3 linked regions of the Homo sapiens genome follow. The protein of the gene in region 3 interacts with the protein of the main gene of each other region in a pairwise test. Each region holds a gene or a part of one and is shown on either strand. Other genes may lie near its edges.

What was found. The genes of interacting proteins can lie anywhere in the genome.
Region 1: the proteins of LPL (region 3) and TMEM185A interact in binary tests that used the Homo sapiens proteins (3 or more experiments, as listed by UniProt).
Region 2: the proteins of LPL (region 3) and SLFN12 interact in binary tests that used the Homo sapiens proteins (3 or more experiments, as listed by UniProt).

The regions. Positions count from the first base shown.
Region 1 is NC_000023.11:149,607,780-149,614,808, forward strand, and holds part of TMEM185A (transmembrane protein 185A), read right to left. Parts: intron 3,685-7,029; coding exon 3,508-3,684; intron 1,056-3,507; coding exon 848-1,055; intron 1-847.
Region 2 is NC_000017.11:35,415,488-35,422,516, forward strand, and holds part of SLFN12 (ribonuclease SLFN12), read right to left. Parts: coding exon 6,503-7,029; intron 4,895-6,502; coding exon 4,787-4,894; intron 1-4,786. UniProt on the Homo sapiens protein: Ribonuclease which is part of an E2/17beta-estradiol-induced pro-apoptotic signaling pathway.
Region 3 is NC_000008.11:19,942,228-19,949,256, reverse strand, and holds part of LPL (lipoprotein lipase precursor), read right to left. Parts: intron 1,078-7,029; coding exon 917-1,077; intron 1-916. UniProt on the Homo sapiens protein: Key enzyme in triglyceride metabolism.

The sequences.
Region 1 (7,029 bases), on a different chromosome or scaffold from region 3:
CAGTTTTGAGTGTCAACTTGGCTGGGCTATAGTACCCAGTTATTTAATCAAACACTAAGCTTGCTGTTGCAGTGAAGGTACTGACTTTGAATAAAGGAGACTACCCTCCATAGCATGGGTGGGCCTCATGCAATCAGGTGAAGGCCTTAAAAGCAAAAACTGTGGTTTCCTGGAGAGGAAAAAATTCTGTGCCAGGACTGCAGTGTCAACTCCTCCTAGGTCTCCAGCCTGTTCACCTGCCCTGGAGATTTCAGACTTGCCAGCCCCACAGTAATGTGAGCCAGTTCCTTAACTCTCTTTATACATATATCTGTATCTAACCTATCAGTTCTGTTTCTGTCTGATTGATACAGGATGTGAAGCTGGGAGAAGGCTGATGTCCTGGGTGAAAAGCTAGTGTTCTAAGTGAAGAAAGAAAAATTGTTATTTCCATCATCTTTTGTTGCCTTGTTGTCTCATGATGTAGAGTTGGTAATGATCAAGCTCTTCCTAACAAAGGGTAAGAAATTGACATCTGAATAACTGAGCAAAATATTTTACTTTTGAAAACATTCTTTTTTTTTTTTTTTAAGACGGAGTTTCATTCTGTCACCCAGGCTGGAGTGCAATGGTTCAATCTTGGCTCACTGCAACCTCCGCCTCCTGGGTTCAAGAGATTCTCCCGCCTCAGCCTCCGGAGAAGCTGGGATTACTGGCGCATGCCACCACACCCGGCTAATTTTTGTATTATTAGTAGAGATGGGGTTTCACCATGTTGGCCAGGCTGGTCTCAAACTCCTGACCTCAAGTGATCCACCTGCCTTGACCTCCCAAAGTGGAAAACATTCTTAAATATATGAAATCTCACCTCTAGTGACCTGTCATGTCGAAAGCCCCAAACGCAAGCTGCAACAGACACCGGGGAAACAAAGAACAGCGGCATGAAGACCAGGAGCCAGAAATGGCTTCCTCTCTCGATTCTGTCACAGACCAGAACTTCAAACATCAACAAGAGCAAGTGGATGCCCACTGCAATCAACATGGCTTTAAACTCCACACACGTTTCTCCTTCTGCTCTAAAAAAGGGAGAGAAGAAGAAAACACCCTCAGTTCAGAATCTCCACTATAAGCAAGCAGTTCAGGGCAAATACCAACTTATATTTATACTTTGAATTTTACTTGAAAATTTGACAAAAGCAAAGGGAAATCAGGTAGAAAGCTAACTTAAACCTAAGCTTTGGTAGGCAATCTCTGAAACATCGAAGAACTACTACATAATACAAAATGAACATTACAACCAAACCAGAATTTAATGTTTTAACCGTATAAGGATATTCTCAAAAGTAATAGCCAGTTCTTATTTCCCTGACAATGTACATAAACACTTCTGTTCACATCTTTAAATTCAACAACAAGAGTTACTTCCAAGATTATTCAAGCTGATTTGCTTCTGCTGCTAAAACCAGGCAAATACCCCTTAAGTCTCATGATCCTCATTTTTCAAGAAACCATGTAAACCACCCTTCACACAATATTATAAAAATAACTCTAGTTCTATGAACAAGTGCCAGTTATATTTCAAGATAGTAGTAACTATTGTTAGGTGCTATTTTTAAATGCAAATAAAACGTATAAATGATTTTCATTTTCCTTTCTATTCCATTAAGATAAATTAACACCTGCACATGAAAGAGAAAGAAGAACAAGAGTTAAAACTGTTCTCAAACAAAATCAGTTTAATTAGCTAAGTATCATGCACAATAACCTTAACAGATCTACAATTGAGCAATGGTAAGGCCGCTAATCAGGAAAAGGCTCTATAATGCATCTGAAAGGCCTACAATGTTTATTCAAAATACAGATGAACATTTATGATATACATGTATTGTGGGTGACAAATACACCGGAAGTTAGATCATAGAGAAAATGCTATCAGAGGTTATTCCTGTAGGACCCAACCATGTTCCACTGGTTAATGTTAACATGAGAATGACCACGCCTGTACATTCCTTACATTCAACCCCACATACACAATTCCTTTCCTTGCTCAAAACATCTTAAATAAGACCAACAAAGAGAAGTTTGAATATATTCTAAATATCAATTAGTAGAACCTAAATGTTTATTTAACTTTGCATTCTTTGAGAAGCAATTAATATTAGATATCTGAAAATATCTCATAAAAAAATAAAACACATACAGCCACACAGGTCATCAATCTTTCAAAAAAAATCTAAGAACTCTGAAACAGCTATACATGAATGTCCCTCACCTGCCAAGGCTCTCTGTGTAACTGTTTTACAGTTCTTAGACATGTATGTGATATGTAATTTACACAATCTGAATCATTTTCATATTTAGTAAACAAAAATTTAAAAAGTTGATGTAGTGGCCGGACGTGGTGGCTCACACCTGTAATCCCAGCACTTCAGGAGGCCAAGGCGGGTGGATCACCTGATGTCAGGAGTTCAAAACTAGCCTGGCATGGTGAAACCCTATCTCTACTAAAAATACAAAAAATTAGCTGGGCATGGTGGCAGGTGCCTGTAATCCCAGCTACTCAGGAGGCCGAGGCAGGAGAATCACTTGAACCCGGGATGTGGAGGCTGCAGTGGGCCGAGATCACACCATTGCACTCCAGCCTGGGCAACAAGAGCGAAACTCTGTCTCAAAAAAAAAAAAAAAAAAAAAAAAAAAAAAGGTGCGGTAGTTTCAACTTTACACTTTTCCCACATGAGCAGCTGCCTTCTGGGAATTCCTGTACTCCTCATTTTCCCAGTGGAGGTTCATAATAGCCTCCCAGTCTTAAGTCCCCCTTTTTCCCTTTATGTAGTTACAGTCTCTGTGGCAGAGAAGGGAAAGACTCTCGCAGGTCCCAGCAACAAGCAGGTTGCATGCTGGCGTGAGCCAACTCCCAGGAATTTGGGCCAGCGGAGGCATCCAAGAGCAGGGAGGGCAAGAGTTGGAAACGGTAAAGGGTACCCCTCTCCCCTGCCCCCAAAGGCTCTGCTTTCCTTCTCGGCATCCAATCTTTGACTTTCCTCATTCCCCAGCTGCTGTCTCAGGGACTCATGGTCTCCTGGTCAAGCCACCTCCCCTACACTGCTAATAGTCCTAAAGCTCTGGGACTAGGAGGGTGGGACAAGGGGAGCCCCAGTTCCAAAACTGTATTGGAGAAAGATCTTTCATGACCAAACATAATATGAGTGTCTTTTCCTAAAAACAGGGTGGTTTCATGCTGCTTAGTCTAGTATGGCATACCAGTTCTGTATTTTGGGTGCATTTTGGATTATATAGGCATCTGTGAGCTGGCTGGCAACTTACCCCCAAATGGCACTGCTTTTGTAAGAAAATACATACCAAAGACTAAATTTTCAAAAACACAGAAGAGATCTGTTAGCTTATACTATAGTTCTAAGACCCCAGATAGGTAGAAAATAAAATGGTCCTTACTTCATCAAAAGTGAGAAAAGTCAAGATATTGCTCCCTCATGCTAGAGACCAATGGGTTGTATAAAGCAGTATTACCGATATTGAGGATTTCGTGCCCAGACTCCAGTTCCAACTGAGGCTCCAACAATGACCATTAACTTCCACAGCCATATTGGAGCAAAGACAGCCCAGTAACTCCACTGTATGATGCCATCCAAACGAAGGGCCAGCAGCACAGAGAACAGCAGCAGACAGGCATAGATGAGGAATTTACTAGGAGAAAAGTAAAACGATTAAGAAGGATTCACTTTTACAAATATGTGATACTGAAATGGGGAGTAATAAGAGCCACATTTGTCAGCATGTAAAAGGAGTCACTAACTCAATAATCATTTATTGAAAAGGTCTATGGGGCAGACATAATGTGTTGGGAATAAAAGAAACATAAAGAAGACTAAAATAAGTCTCCTGCTTTCCAAGGCTTCCTCATAGAAGGAAGACCACACAGAAACATATAATACAGCACAATGTTTGTGATGAGAGCTTGGAAGAGGAAATACAGACTGTGTCTGAGGAGGCACTCAGAAGCAGAGATGTGGTGACCCTAGAGCTGGTTCCAGAGGGCAAGTAGGAAGCTGCCAGGCAGGAAAGCAAGTGAGATGAGGAAGTATTCCAGGCAGAAGGAACTAGCTATACCAAGACACAGAGACTGGAAAAGGCTGACATGCTCTGAAAATGGTCAAGTTCTATCACTAACTGATTCTATTTCTAAAAAGGCAGCCATCTGTCATATTCATATGGCATGAACATTTTAGTGTATGTATTATACTTTCCATGAATGAATAAATTACACATACACACATGCTCACGTCTCATATAAAAGGGAATTGCTACAGAGGATGTCCTTGAAATAATTAGAAATTATACTCTTGAGGACCTCTATTTCCAGCCTTGACTTAATAATAGGAATATAATTTACCTTCCCGCCTAAATAAGAAGCTTGATACAGTCTACAAAAGAACAGTTTTCAGACATTGACAACAGGCAGTGGAGAACAGGTGAGAAGGAGGAAATAAAGGAGGTAAACCCTACTATTGCCCCAGTTTGCAGATCAGAGGCAGTTTCCAGGCTGCAGCAAGAAAACAGTTAAAACTCAACCCTGTCAATAACTATATTAAATATAAATGGCCAACTGAAAGACAAAGATGATCAGATTGGATAAGTAAGCAAGACAACTATATGCTGTCTGTAAGAATCCCACTTTATCTATCTATAAAGACACAGATAGATTAAAAGCAAAAGGAAAGAAAAAGTTATACCAAATAAACACTAACCAAAAGAAAGCTGGAATGACTATATTAATATCTGTTTAGTCTTCCATTGCTGCTGTAACAAATTACCACAAACTTAGCAGCTTAAAACAACGTAAATTTATTATCTCACAGTTCTATATGACAAAAGGCGAGACGGGCTTGGTTGGTTTCTCTACTCAGAATCTCACAAGGCTGAAATAAAGATGTCTGTTGGTGGAATGCTTATCAGGGGACTCTGGCAGAATCTACTTCTAAGCTCATTCAGGTTGTTGGCAGAATCCAGTTTCTTGTGGTTGTAGGACTGAGGTATGTGTCTCTTTGCTTGCTGTCACGCAGCAGCTGATCTTGCGATAGTAGGGGCCTCTCCTGGGTCCTTGTAAATAGGCCCCTACATCTCAAAGCCAGTAACAAGCTATAGCATATTCAATCTTTCTCATGCTTGGGATGTTTTCTCACTACTTCTGCCATATCGCTTCTGCTTCCACTGAGAGAAAGTTCTCCGCTTTTAAGAGTTCATGTGATGAAACTGAGTCCACCTGGTTAAGCCAGGCTACTCTCCCTATTTTAAGGTCCATAACTGTGGTTGGTAGGCAGAATTCTAAAGAAGTTTCCCAGGATTCCTGTCCCCTGATTATTCAATCAAACACTAATCTGAGTAATACTGTGAAGGGACTTTGCAGATGGAATTAAGGTTACTAATCAGCTAACTTTACAATAGGAAGATTATACTGGATTATCCAGGTGTGCCCAGTGTAATCACATAAGCCCTTAAGAAAGCAGAAGAGTAAGTCAGAGAAATGTGGTGGAAGAGAGATGAGGCAGAAGTCAGAGAGATTCCAGACTTGAGAAGGATTCAGCCTGTTACTTCTGGCTTTGAACATGGAGGTAAGGAACCATGAGCCAAGGAATGCAGGCAGGCTTCAGAAGCTGAGAATAACTCGCAGCTGACAGCCAGCAAGGTAAATGGGACCTCAGCCCTACAACCCCAAGGAACTAAATTCTGACAATAGCCCAAATGTGCTTGAAAGCAGATTAATCCCTGGAGGCTCCAGAAAGGAATAGAGCCCTCCTGACACTTTGATTTTGACCCTGTGAAACTAGGCAGAAGACCCATCTGAGTTGTGCTGTACCCGGACTTCTGACCTAAAGAACTGAGAGTAATTTGTCATGGTAACAGCAGAAACGAATGCTAATAAATATAGCTTCAAAGTCCCCTTTGCCATGTAAAATAATAACATATTCACAGGTTTCAGGGCTTAGGGCCTGGGTATCTGTGTATTTGTGGGGGTGGGGCATTCTGCCTACCACAACATAAGACACAGTATATTTTTGAACAAGGACTATTTCCAGGGACAAATAGAGGTAGTTCATAATGATAAAGGGGTCAATTTGTCATATGCCTAATAACAAAGTTTCACAATACATGTAGAAAGTACTGATCAATCTAAAAGGAGAAATAAAAAAATCAAACTGTTATAAATGGAAATTAACATTCCTTTCTTAGTAACTAATAGAACACATAAACAGAAAATTACTAAGGATATATATGATTGTAGCAACACTATCAACCAACTTGACCTAATTAATATTAATGAGTTCCTCCCAACAAAAGCAAAATACAGATTCCTTTCAAACACACACGGAACATTCACCAAGATAGATTGAATTCTGGGCCATAAAACAAAGCTCAACAAATTTAAAAGGACTGAAATCATACAAAGTAAACAAGCACAATGGAGTCAAACTAGAAATCAACAATAGAAAAATATCTGGAAAATTCTCAAAATACTTGAAAATTAAATGCCACACTGCGAAATAATCCATAGGTCAAAGACTATGAAGAAAATTGAAAAATATTTTGGACTAAAGGCAAAAACACAATATACCAAAATTTGTGAGATACACTAAAGCAGTACTTAAGGGAAATTTTAGCATCAAATACTTACATTAGAAAAGATATCAAGTCAATAATCTAAGATTCTATCTTATGAAACTAGAAAGAACATGGAGGTAAGGAACCTCCATGTAAGAAACGGAAGGAAATTTGTAAAAAGTAAATGGAAAGAAGAAAATGATAAATGTAAGCACATTAATCAATAAAATACAGTAAAAAGGGATTAGAGAAAAAAATCAATGAAACTAAAAGCAGTTTCTTTGAGAAAGTAAGAAAATTGGTAAATCTACAGCCAGAATAATCAGTAAAAAAGAGTAGGCTCAAATTACTAATATCAAGAATGAAAACAGGGATATCACTACAAATCCTAATAATACTAAAGGGATAAGTAGGGGATATTATAAACAACTT
Region 2 (7,029 bases), on a different chromosome or scaffold from region 3:
TGTAACAAAAACAAAAATAAATAGATGAGAAGTAACTAAACTAAAAGGCTTCTGCACAGCAAAAGAAATAGCAGAGTAAAAAGACAATCCACAGAGTGGGAGAAAATATTTGCAACCTATGCATCTGACAAATGACTGATATCCAGAATCTATGAGGAACTCAAACAAATCAGCAAGAAAAAAACAAAGAATCCCATCAAAAAGTGGGCAAAGGATATAAATAGACAATTCTCAAAAGAAGATATACAAATGGCCAATGAACATGAAAATATGCTCAACATCACTAATGATCATGGAAATGAAAATTAAGTCCACAATGAGACCATCTTACACCTGCAAGAATGGCCATAATTAAAAGTCAAAAAATAATAGATGTTGGCAAGTATGCACTGAAAAGGGAATTCTTTTATACTGCTGGTGTGAATGTAAACTATTACAACCACTGTGGAAAAATGTGTGGAGATTCATTAGGGAATTAAAAGTAGAACTACCATTTGCTCCAGCAATCCCACTACTGGGTATCTACTGAGAGGAAAATAAGTCATTACATGAGAAAGATGTTTGCACACACATTTATAGCAGTACAATTTGCAATTCCAAAAATATGGAACCAGCCTAAATGCCCATCAGCCATCAAGTGGATAAAGAAAATGTGGTATATATACACCATGGAATGCTATCAGTCATAAAAAGGAATGAAATAATGGCATTCACAGCAACCTGAATGGGGTGGGAACCATTATTCTAACTGAAGTAACTCAGGAATGGAAAACCAAATATTGTATGTTCTCACTCATAAGTGGGAGCTAGGCCATGAGGACACAAAGACTAAGAATGATACAAAGGACTTTGGGGACTCAAGGGGAAGGGTGGAAGGGGAATGAGGGATAGAAGACTACACACTGGGTACAGTGTACATTGCTCAGGTGATAGCTGCACCAAAATCTCAGAAGTCACCACTAAAGAACTTATTCATGTAACCATAAACCACTTGTTCCCCAAAAACTAGTGAAATAAAAATTTTAAAAATTAACATATAAGATACCTAGAAAAAGCATACATTTTAAAAGTACTTACTACACAAAGTAAATAAATTTTTGAAACCAATCTGCTTTGTTCTCACAAGAAAATAAAAATAGCCTGAAATAAGGATCTGAAATATAAGTCAGACTAATACTGAGATGCCAGCTATTGAATTTAGGATTCCTTAAAAATATCTTACCAAAATTAACACCGAAGGAAACAGAAAGAGTAGGCAACCCTTTTATTAAAAAACCAGAAATATGTCAGGCACAGTGGCTCAAGCCTGTAATCCTAGAGCCCTGATAGGCTGAGGCAGTTGGATCACTTGAGCCCAAGAGCTTGAAGCTGCAGTGAGCCATGATCACACCGCTACACTTCAGCCTGGGTGACAGAGCCAGTTCCTGATTGAAAAAAGAACTAACAGTCTTCCCACAAAAGGAAGACAAACCATTTTACAGGCAAATTCCACCACAATTTCAAGCATATCATTCTAATCTTATATAAATTTTTTCAAAGGATAGGAAAAGAGGAAATAATCCCCAACTCATTCTGAGTTCAGCACAATTTTAATACAAATACTAGACAAAGAAAGAGAGAAAACTATTCTTAGACCTTGTCACTCATGGATTTAGATACAGAAATTCTAAATTAAGTATTAGCAGCTGAATAAAAATGCATAAAAAAGATAATACTGCAAGACCGAACTGAGTTTGTTCCAGGAATGCAAAAAAGGCTTAATAGAAAATATTAAACATCATTTGCCAATCAACATATTAAAAACATTTAATCATGTCAACAGGAGTAGAAAATGTGTTTGATAAAATTCAGTATTCATCCATGATAAAAAAAGAAAAAACATTTAGTAAACTAGAAATATCATTAAACTTCCTTAGCCTGATAATGGTATATTCAAAGTACCTAAGGCAAACCTCAATTTCTTTTTTTTATTATTATACTTTAAGTTCTGGGGTACATGTGCACAATGCACAGGTTTGTTACATAGGTATACATGTGCCATGTTGGGCAAACCTCAATTTAAATGGGAAAGCCATAGACACACTCTCTTTAAAATCTGAACTAAGACTATTTGCATTAAGAATTGTCTAAAAGTTTTCTTCAGTTCATTAGGACAAGAAAAAAAGACATTAAAGGCAGAAAGATTGGAAAGGAAAAGACAAAACATTTTATGATCTGCATATTTGTTTATACAAAATGTAAATAATCTATGGACAGATTATTTAAAATAATAAGGAAACCTAACAATGTGGCCTTATATAAACTCAGTATGTAAAAATCAACTGCATTTCTACACATTAGCAATAAACAAGAAAATGGAACTTTTAAAAAAAATATCTTTACAACAACAAAAATAAAAGGAACCTAGACATAAGTGTAATAAAAGATGTACAAAATGTGTACACAGAAATTTATGAAACTATAAAGGCATTAAAGAAGATATAAATAAGTAAAAAGATTTCCTATACTCAAGGATACAACTTACTGATATAAATATGCCATGTCTTCCCAAATCTATCTAGAGATGCACTGTAACTGCAAATCAAAATCCCAAAAGTTTTTTTGGCATTTAAGCAGATTCTAAAGTGTGTATAGAAGATTAAATGATTAAAAATTGCCTAGACACTCTCAAAGAAAAACTAAAGGGCTTACCCTACCAGATATCGATACTTAGTATAACATTACAGTGGCAGGGACAGACAATTTGATCAAGGAAACATAATAGAGATTCTAGAAAGAGGATTATCTATAGATATACAGTTGACCCTTGAACAACATGGGTTTGAATTGCATGGGTCCACTTACGCCAAGATCTTCTTCCACCTCTGCCACCCCAAGATAGCAAGACCAACCCTTCTCTTCCTCAGCCTACACAACGTGAAGGCAATGAGTACGAAGACCTCTAAATGATCCATTTACACCTAATTTATAGAAAATATATTTCCTCTTCCTTATGACTTTCTCAATAACATTTTCTTTTCTCTAGCTTACTTTATTGTAAGAATATAGTATATGATACTTATTGTAAGAATATAGTATATGATACACACAAAATATGTGTTAATTGACTACGTTATTGGTAAGGCTTTGGGTCAAAAGTAAGCTATTAGTAGTTAACTTTTTGGAAAGTCAAAAGTTATACACCGATTTTCGACTGCACCTTTTGTTCAAAGGTGAATTGTACTTAGTAATATGATGAAGGTGGCATGGCAGATCATGGTGAAAGTGAGACTTTTCAGTATTGCGGCTGGGAAAGTTGTTATCCACATGGAATAAAATGAAATAGCATGCTACATTACTGTCTATTGAGATGGATTGTGTATTTATTTATTTGTTTGTTTGTTTGTTTGTTACTTACTGAGACAAGGTCTCACGCTGTTGCCTGGGCTGGAGTACAGTGGTGTGATCTCAGCCCACTGCAAGCTCCGCCTCCTGGATTCAAATGATTCTTGTGCCTCAGTCTCCTGAGTAGCTGGGTCTGCAGGTGTGCACCACCACACCTGGCTAATTTTTGTATTTTAGTAGAGACACGGCTTCACCATGTTGGCCAGGCTGTTCTCTTGGCCTCAAGTGATCCGCCCACCTCTGGATTGTGTATTTACATGTTAAATGTTGAGTGCAAAACTTTAAAATTTTTAGGAGAAAATTAAAAGAAATATCTTTATAATCCTAGTGTATAGAAGGATCTCTTATGCAAGGCACAAAGAGCACTAAACCGCAACATTTTAAATGATAGTTTTGCCTACATTAAAATTTAAAACTACTACTTATGAGAGTATACCTTAAGAAAAGAGAAAATGCAAGCCACCAGCTTGGAGAAAACATTTGGTAGTCGTTAATACCTATGACTAAAAGAGGATTTTATTCTAGAATCTCTAAATTACTCCTATAAATCAATAAGAAAAAGACAAAGCTTATTAGAAAAATGGTCAAAGACAAAATAGACACTGCACAGAAGATGAAATATATATGGCCAGTAAGTATATGGAGAGATGCTCAACCCAATCAATAACCAGGGAAATGCACATCACAAAGACATACCATTTTATACACATTTGATTGAGAAGAAGGAGGTCAAGAGAAGGACAACCATAAATAAGAAAAATTTGACAACTGGAGAAGATGTGGCATTTCTAATATATTGCTGATGGGAGTAACATGACCTATCTACTTTCAAAACAATTTGGCATTATCTTATTACTTGAATATTCACACACCTCCTGAGCCAACAATTCTACTCCTACTTAGGCACCCAGGAGAAAATCTTGCACATATGCACTAGAAGACCGACTAAGAATGTTCAAGGTAACACTGTTCATGTCACAGAAAGCAGGAAATAACTCAATTGCCCATCATCAACAACAACAACAAAAACAGATAGATCAATCAGAGATCCTGAGTACTGATGGCGTTTCTTCAGTAACTGAACATAGCTATGCCTGAAGGTGGGCCTCAATCTAGACTGCTCAGTGACATGATATATATGCTTTCTTTTTTTGTTTGTTTAAACTAAACTGACTTGGGTTGCTCTTACTTTCAAGTAAACGAGTTTGTATTGCACCAAGAAAATTCTAACCCAAATATAAAGAAATAGGATTTGACAGATTCAATGACTTAAAACACCAAAGAATTCTCATAAACACAAGAATGTGCTTTCAGAGCAAATTTCAAGACTGAGCTGGTTTGAAGAGAAAGAGGTTTGACTACAGTCACACTAACAAATCCGAAGAAGCCAGAATGAAATTACCTGGACAGTGATGTCTCTGCCGTTGCCATTCCAAAAGAGGCCAACTGTGGGGAGCAGGTAATGACGTATTTATTTGAGAGATCACCTCTTCATATGAACTGGAAAATTCTTAAAAACAAAAATATCACATTCTTAATTTCGCAGAAGGGAGACCCCAACTAACTAATGCATAGTATTATATATTAAAAGTCTACTTGTAACTGATTCTGTTTTCCAAAAAAAAATTAATGTTAGATATTGTGGTTAGATTCTTAGGTCAGATACAAATTGCAAAATTAACTTTTGATGCCACTGACACACTATATTTCAAATGAAAATTAACAGTAAAAATGCATTAATAGTAATTTAATACATTACCATATAATTGGGTTTATTTTTAAAGCAGTTAAAATGAGACGTGATGGCTAGTGAAGGAAAGCTGACTTTTGTGCAGATTCTGAGGAAGAAGCTTACATTTTCAGACATTTTATAAGCTGCTAGTACTGGTCCAATTGCTAGTACTGGTCCAATTTCATTTGAGGCTTTCTTTTCCCAAACGCAGAGAAAATACCAGCATTATTCCTTCCTTACTAGTACAAATTAGGGCTACTACTTGGCTCACAAATGTGAGAAGAAAAAGGAAGCGGTTTTATAGGAAATAAATAGAAAGGGACGCCAGGCATGGTGGCTCACGCCTGTAATCCCAGCACTTTGGGAGGCCGAGGCGGGTGAATTGCCTGAGGTCAAGAGTTCGAGACCAGCCTGGCCAACATGGTGAAACTCCGTCTCTACTAAAAATACAAAAATTTAGCTGGGCGTGGTGGCGGGCACCTGTAATCCCAGCTACTCGGAAGGCTGAGGCAGGAGAATCGCTTGAATCCAGGAGGCGGAGGTTGCAGTAAGCCGAGATCCTGCCATTGCACTCCAGCCTGGGTGACAGAGCAAGACTCCGTCTCAAAATAAATAAATAAATAAATAAATAAATAAATAAATAAATAAATAAATAGAAAGGGGACAAGAAGCATGAAGGAGCAAGTAAGTAAAAGAGGCAAATGTTCCTGAAAGAAAGCAATGGTTACTTACTGAAATAGAGCTCAGAAACAAAAAGGAAAAGGATTAAACGGGGTTTCCTTCAAAACTAGTATAGACGTGGTAGGGAAGAAACTTCCAGGTTTAATTGGGTTTTTGCACCAGGTAGGGCTACTAAAAGTAGATGATGTGCTTATTTTATGAAATATCTATCTTCTTCTAAGGGTATAGAAGAAAACAAGAGGCAGGGAACTTTTTTTTTTTTTTTTTTTTTTTGAGATGGAGTCTCGCTCTGTTGCCCAGGCTGGAGTGCAGTGGCGCAATCTCCGCCCACTGCAACCTCCGCCACCTGGCTTCAACCGATTCTCCTGCCTCAGCCTCCTGAGTAGCTGGGACTACAGGCACGTGCCATCACACCCAGCTAATTTTTTGTATTTTTAGTAGAGACGGGGTTTCACCATCTTAGCCAGGGATGGTCTCTATCTCCTGACCTCGTGATCCGCCCGCCTTGGCCTCCCAAAGTGCTGGGAATACAGACGTGAGCCACCGCGCCTGGCCGAGGCAGGGAACTATTGATTGTATCCACCAGGGATTAATAGTTTAGGTGCTGAAATTTGAGGACTATTGATCTTGCCCCAGATCCCATAGAGAAAACCTCCCTGCCACCCAAGCCAAATGCATTCCTGTTGCGAATCCCCCGCTCTCAACTTGGTTCAGCCTCCACCATGAACTGGATCCATTCCTTCCTGGTCAACTGCATCACACGGTTATCTTTCACATGCCAGGAATCAGGCTCTTTAGCAAACACTGCACAGCAGAAGCGCTCCACTCTGAGTGCACAGACATATCCACAAAGACTTCCTTTATCATATACTCCAAGGAATTTGCATGAATAATTTATCTTCTTCTTCTCCATACAGAAGTGATGCACAGGCATCTTCCTAATGGACTTTTCGATTTCTCTTTCTAAGTCATCGAGGTCACTCATCTCTGCTTTAAAGCCAATTATTTCTTTATCTTCATTTAAACCAATGAACAAATATCCTCCATCAGTATTTGCAAATGCAGAAACATATTGAGGGAGAATCTCTTTAATTCGTTGTAACAACTTTTCTGTCGAGAAGTTTTTAATTTCAACATGTGTGGATTCAGTAAAGGTCAATTTTTCTTTCCGATCAAGTTCTGTTCTATCAAAAAAAACCCCGGCCAAGGCCTTCATGTTATTTTCTTCTTGT
Region 3 (7,029 bases):
CTAGATGAATGTTATTTTTAGTTAGTTCTCACTAGAAATTAGTATTATAATATTCACAAGCTCTGACATAATGGATAGATAATATATCTTTAACAAGCCATTTTACACAAATCCTTTTAAATAAATTACACAGTCTACTCACTTGGGATTGAAACATTTTAAAACAAACTAAGCAAGAACTACATAATCTAAAGTGACTGTGTGACATATTAGAGAGGGGACTTTTAACAATTTTTTAAAGTAAATTTAATCACAGTTTCACTTTTTCTAATCATCTGGCATGTCAGCATGTCAGTTCCCTGCCCAGCCCTTTTTTTTTTTAATTTCCAGAAAGGCTCCCTAAAGTTTACAACTGGAAAATTTTGGAAGTAGAGTGTTTTTAGGGACATCTAGTGCAACCTCTGCTTTACAGATCAGTAAATGGAGGCCCAGAGATGACAAGTGACTTGATCCACAGCACAGAGCTGGAGAATGGCAAAGCCAGCATGGACGCCACACTTCCTCACTCCACTCCAGCCCTCTCCTCACTCTTCCATGCTGTCTTCTTTAGAAAGGTTCTCCTGGCAATGTGCTGGGTGATGCGGGATCATGCCAGGGTTCCACCGGTTCCCCACAGCAATCACCTATCTTCTGCTCAGTAGCTGGGCAGAGCATCCTTTACCAACCTCGCAGGAAGCTCTGGCTCAAGGGCACCAACCAGGTACAGTGTTAAAATGAAGGCTGGCACTGCCTAGGGGGAGTTCTCATGAACCTGTGGCTTCAGATCCCACCTGAGCCAGAACTGTCTTTATTCAAGTGTAAGGAGATCCACGTGAGATGTGGGGTGCGGACCCATCACTGGGTCCCCAACAATTGGGCAGGCCAGTCAGGATACCTCACCACCCCAATCCACTCTTCCCCAAAGAGCCTCCCTTACCGTCCAGCCATGGATCACCATGAAGGTTTTGCTGCTGTGATTGAAATGACAGGTAGCCACGGACTCTGCTACTCCGGGAATGAGGTGGCAAGTGTCCTCAGCTGTGTCTTCAGGGGTCCTTAGGGCAAATTTACTTTCGATGTCGATAAAATCTCTTCTTTCTGGAAAGGAAAAATTGGATATGAGGTTAACTGGAGGGTTGCTTGATTTTATTCATTGGAATGATATGTTTTAGGTTCACAGGCAACCACCGCTGATGCTATTTTTGTTTCTGAAGTGTTTTCGAAAACGAATGTGGATTGCAAGAGAACAACAGATGCTCCAACGTTGAGCAAAGTTGACAGAGAGACAACCTTAACTCTGAATTAAGATTGTCACCATTGACCTCTCCTAAGTCTTCCAGCCTTTCTTGAAGCTCTCCTTAGTCAGGGTATGTGTGTGTACGTTTGTGATTTCAACTAAGGGAACTGCTGTTTGGGGATTCCTTAGTTAATTCTGTCTTCTCTCAAGACATGAATTTAAGTGACTTGGCTGAGGCTACCCTGGTATTAGTGGGAGGGTGAGGATCAGAGCCCGGTCTCTCAGTTCCACTTTGAAGCTTGCTTTCGTGGAGAACACTGACTCATGCATGGCTCTTGTGTGCTATAGTTCCACTATTTGTGTGTGTGTGGGGCGGGGGGGGGGTTGTTTTGTTTTGTTTTGTTTTTTGAGACAGGGTCTTGTTCTGTGTCCCAGGCCAAAGGAGTGCAGTGGTGCGATCTTGGTTCACTGCACCCTCGAACTCAAGTGATCCTCCCACCTCAGCTTCCTGAGTAGCTGGGACCACAGGTGCGTGCCACCACGCCAGGCTAACTTGTATTTCTTGTAGAGATGAAGTTTGGCCATGTTGCCCAGGGTGGTCGCTATCTCCTGGGCTCAAGTGATCCACCCGCCTCAGCCTCTTAAAATGCTGGGATTACAGGCATGAGCCACCGGGCCTGGTTAATTTTTGGATTTTTAGTAGAGATGAGGTTTCACCATGTTGGCCAGGCTGTTCTCAAACTCCTGGCCTCAAGTGATTTGCCCACCTCAGCCTCCTAAAGTGCTGGGATTACCAGTGTGAGCCATCGGGCCGGGCCTCTATTTTTAATAAAATAATTTAAAAAAAATTTTTTAAAGAAAAGTTGGAAGCATGAGGAGGCTTTTGTATGAAACTGTTCCCACTCCTATGGCAAGATATACTTCAAAATGTTCTAAGAAATAATTTAGTAGGTTGTTCAGAAATACCCGTGCTATGTATCAGCCATGGTTAATTCTCTCCCCAAATATTTCTTTTCCCACTATGTCATTACAATGTTCCACACAAAGGCAAAACTTGAAAACCACAGCAAACCTTGTTGTTGAAAGGGTTCACTTTGGTTCTTCATAGTTAATCCCAAACTTGGTGAGAAGAGAAAGACAACCTAGTTTTTGAAACTATGGACAATAGTTATAAATGCTGCTGAATCTTCATGGGGTACAGTGAATAGTTGAAGTAAATTATATTGCAAATAAAATCAGACTTCATGAAGCAGAGCACAATCAAAGGGAAGTTATGTTAAAGGGAAATCATTTAATTCCTTTTCAAGTAAAGAAGTTAAAGAAAACGACCCATAACACCCACCTATTTACTGTAAGAAGGTAATAACTTGTAGATTTTAGATTTTGCCGTTCGAAATTTCAGGAGATTCATGAGGCTGCGAGGACTACTTCTCATTCCTTAATCTAAATTTGCTCTTTTTTTTCAACTCAAAATTTAAAAATCTGTAACTTCAAAATAACTGCGGAAGTCAGGCCAATAATAAAAATAAGAGTGTCATAGTGAGAACAGTGAAAGAATAGGCATTTGAATCAGCCTTATCTAAATATCTGAGGATTGGCCAACATTTTCCTATTGAGTAATTATTTTCTAAAATTCCTTAAACAATATTGTGGTTTAAGAAATATGCAATGAGTTGATCACACACACATACACACACACGTGCACACACACCTCCGTCATCTAAAATGTAGGAGAAATTTCTTAATGATTCTAATTATGAGAAAAGGAGTTTTGTTACAATGGGTAAACACTCCAAGATCACTTATTCAAATAAGAGTCTTGCTAAACTATTGATCTTTAAAGCTCTTTTCATTTGCATATAGTAAAAGTACACGTGAATCCATTCATCCACCAAGAATATGCTCTACTTCTCATCTTTATTTGAAGATGTTGGTAGCCTTCTTCCTTCCCAACCAGAAAGCACTCTAGTAGCTTTACTATTTCTCTGATAATGGAAGAGTATTGAATACTTTTAATCTAATTCTGCCTTCAGTGCCCAAGAACTTCTTTTCCTGTTAAAAAGTGCTTTAGAAAATTTAAAACTAATTTCACCCTCTCCCACACCTTTCCACCTTAAATAGCTCATACCTCCTCTCCACAGGTCTTATTTTAACATATTCTATGATCAATCTTTTTAAAGCAGAGATGATGTGAACAATCTGGCAGACAGATCTCGCTTACCACCTATTTGCCAAATTGACATTTTAAGAATAATGCTCAGTATAACTCCAGAGGCTGCCATTCACTTTTAGTCCACTTTCCCCTAGAATTATGCAACTTGGTGTCCCTGGAATTGCTGGTGGTTTTGAAATGACCACAAATTTTCTTTGAAATGACTAAGACTGGCTTTGTGTAGTTCCATGAAAAAAAGTCTATTCAATCCATAGATCCTGTACCAGATTGCATGTATGGCTCACTGACAGCTCCAATTTCCCTCTGTTGGGTCCAGAGTATGTAATGAAAAGTAGGAAATTTACACATCCTCTAGTAAATTTGTATTTAGAGACTTTCATTTCACTTTTAAAGAAAATGATTTTCATTTGACAGGAAAATATACCACTCTATGTGCTCTGTGATGGTTTCAATTCTATGTCAGACATGACATCATAAATCTTATCGGCACTTAGTCAAACTTTCCTTTTCTTGGATGTTCTGATAATTTTCACACTACCTGTGTTTGCAACCCCCCGAGGATGTCTCAGTGTCGTAAGATGAATATGCTTCCCAAACTTCAGTCAGCTCTCCAGTAACTGACTTAGACCATGTGGCTGTGGGGCAGTCAGTATATTTATTTGTCCCAATGCATCCTGTGATTGCTATTGGGCAGCAGGTGAACTGATTTGATGCAATTGTTACTAAGGAAACAGTTATTTTCCATACATGGAAATAATATTAGTGACTGCACTCATCCAACTAGACTGTCTTTTGCCATGTCCCTTAGAAATTAAGGCCACCTTAGAATTGAGAAAGAAGAGGAGTACAGGAGGGAGGGATGGAGGGAAGGAAGGAAGGAAGGAAGAAGGGGAAGGGGAAGGAAGGAGGGAAGGAAAGGCAGGCCTTCATTCTGAATTTAACTTAGCATCACCGTACCACCTGCCCATCAGGCCTCGTCAGAAATGTCCATATTAAGCCCTTAGGGGAGAGTTTTGGGTAACACGCAAGTTATAAATTGTGCCTTTCCTGACTATGGAATCTTTATTCCTAAATTCCTAAATAAATAACTACAAATCTGAGTGTGTAAACAAAGACAAAGAATTTATTCTAACATAGATAATAACTCACAGAGACGAAATTAGGCTGAGAAGTTAAAGCACGTAGAGAAAGATAAATGTATAGAGGGGAAGAGTGGTAATTCTTGTTGCTAGAAAGAGGGAAGTGTTGAGCATCCCAGGAAAGCAGCAGATGGTGCTTTAAAGGCAGATCAAAGTCATCACGTGAGTAAGATGAACATTTATGCAATGACATGAGGTACAAGAACTCAATGAGAATGCAATTCTCTTTGGAATTTCTGTTCTCCTGTTATCCCCCCACCCCTTTCTCTCTCTCTCCCCCCTTTTCTCTCACTCCTACAGGGCTTCCTCAGTAATTCATTTGCTCTCTGAGACTGATAGTCATAGTTATCGACTCAGGCAGTGTCTGTAGGATATCGAAGAACAAAGTGAATTACTGATGTGGTCGATTTGGTGAAGAAAAACATCAATATCATGATCAGACTGAATTGATTGGTCTGTTCAGATATTCTAACGTAAGTAATGCTCTTGACTTCTCTAACATGCAGCTTTACTTTATTTCATTTTATTTTATTATTATTTTTTGAAACGGAGTCTTGCTCTGTCACCCAGGCTGGAGTGCAGTGGCACGATCGTGACTCACTGCAACCTATGCCTCCTGGGTTCAAGCCATTCTCTGCCTCAGCCTCCCGAGTAGCCGGGATTACAGGTGCCTGCCACCACGCCTGGCTAATTTTTGTATTTTTAGTAGAGATGGGGTTTCACCATCCTGGCCACGCTGGTCTTGAACTCCCGACCTCATGATCCACCCGCCTCGGCCTCCCAAAATGCTGGGATTACAGGAGTGAGCCACTGTGCCAGCCTACTTTTTATTTTTATAAAAGTTGTTTTATTAATGGAATAGGAAAAATAAATCCTGTATGAATCATCTGAATTTTACCCTGAATTTTCTCCAATATTAGGGCTAACCTTCCACACTACTGAAAAAGAGGGGTTAAAAAATAGGTTCAGAGATGTGTATTAAAATTGCCCCACTGAATGAGACCATCAAGTGTGAATAAGCCATCATTATTTAAGGAGATCTTGTGGACTGGTTAATGAAATAATTTGGTTGAGTGTCATCACATAGGCATATTTCAGTCAAGATTTTTTAAGTGAAATACAAAATACTTACCTGGTTAATCTGAGACTACTTTCTTCTTGTTGCTGAGGATGGCAAATGGAAACATCCAGTTGTCTCAAACTAACACAATGAAAGTCCATGATTACTTTGCCAACAATTGTTTTATTGGAGGGAGGGCTGAATAAACATGGGGACGCTATTCTTTTTAGTTAAAATGTAAGTGCTAACTCCTATACTGTTTTTCACCGTAATTAATTCTGCAGCCAATTTTTTTTCAAAGGTACATTATTGATGTCATGATAGCTGTATCTTGAATGAAGGGCTGTTGAGGATCTCTAAGTGCAGATCCATTTACCTACATTCACCACCATCCCTCCGAAAGCATCTGACTTTTCATGCTACTTAAAAGCTTCTCTAAACTTTGTACTACACTCAAATTAATCCAAGCCAGAATGGTATTACCCCTACCTGACTGCATAGAAAGAGACTTCAACATTTACGAAAATACAGATGAGCGCACACACCAAAGTGGGTTGAGTGCTGTGAGCAAGGTGGCTGGATTAGACACAGTGTGGCCACGCCAACTGGGTCATCTTTGTTCTATTCTACTGTCAAATAATGGTGGGAGACGTTTTCGTTTATTCATTCAAACAGTCAAAATCACCACACTACTTAGATAGCATTTGATCATTCTGAGAGCACAGACTGGGAAGAGCAAAAGGAATGAATTGGCACAAGTTTAATAGGCTCACTTCCGGCAGAACTTACATATATATATAGCACCTAAGATAATCCATTCCTTCCTTCCTAGTAGATACCTGTTGTTGAGTACGCAAATGGTGTCAGTGCACACAGACAATCTTAAAATGGCCACAAGACAGCAAACTGCAGTCACGCAGTCTAGTGAACAGACATCGTTCAGAGTAAATTTCAAACTCTTAGCCTCTGAGTAAGTTGGAACCCTATCCTATTAGTCCTTCAGAAACTATTGGAGCCTTCAACTTTTGCAAAGACAGAATGTGACAAAAGCACTGTGACAAGAATTTTACTCCCAGGTTAGAAAGTCTCTGTTGATAAAAGGTATTTAGTTCACTGTGGTGACAAACTCATTTAATGGATAGATGATCCCAAAGCTTTACACTGATAAGTGTTTTTGTTGTTTTTATTGCCATAAAAGTTGGAATTTACCTTATTAGTAAATCCAAATGGTCTCTTCATCCAGACCTTAAAAAATCATGATACTCATGTCTTGAATACTTTCCTTACACTTTGTGATCCAAAATCATCACCAACCATCATTTTGATGGCTGGAACATCTTCATATTTAAGTCAATGCAGTCTTTGTGGTGGTCACGGAAGAAACTAGCTGCAAAATATTGTAAGTTGCAAGGCATTTTCTTGAACAATCTGGCATAAGGCA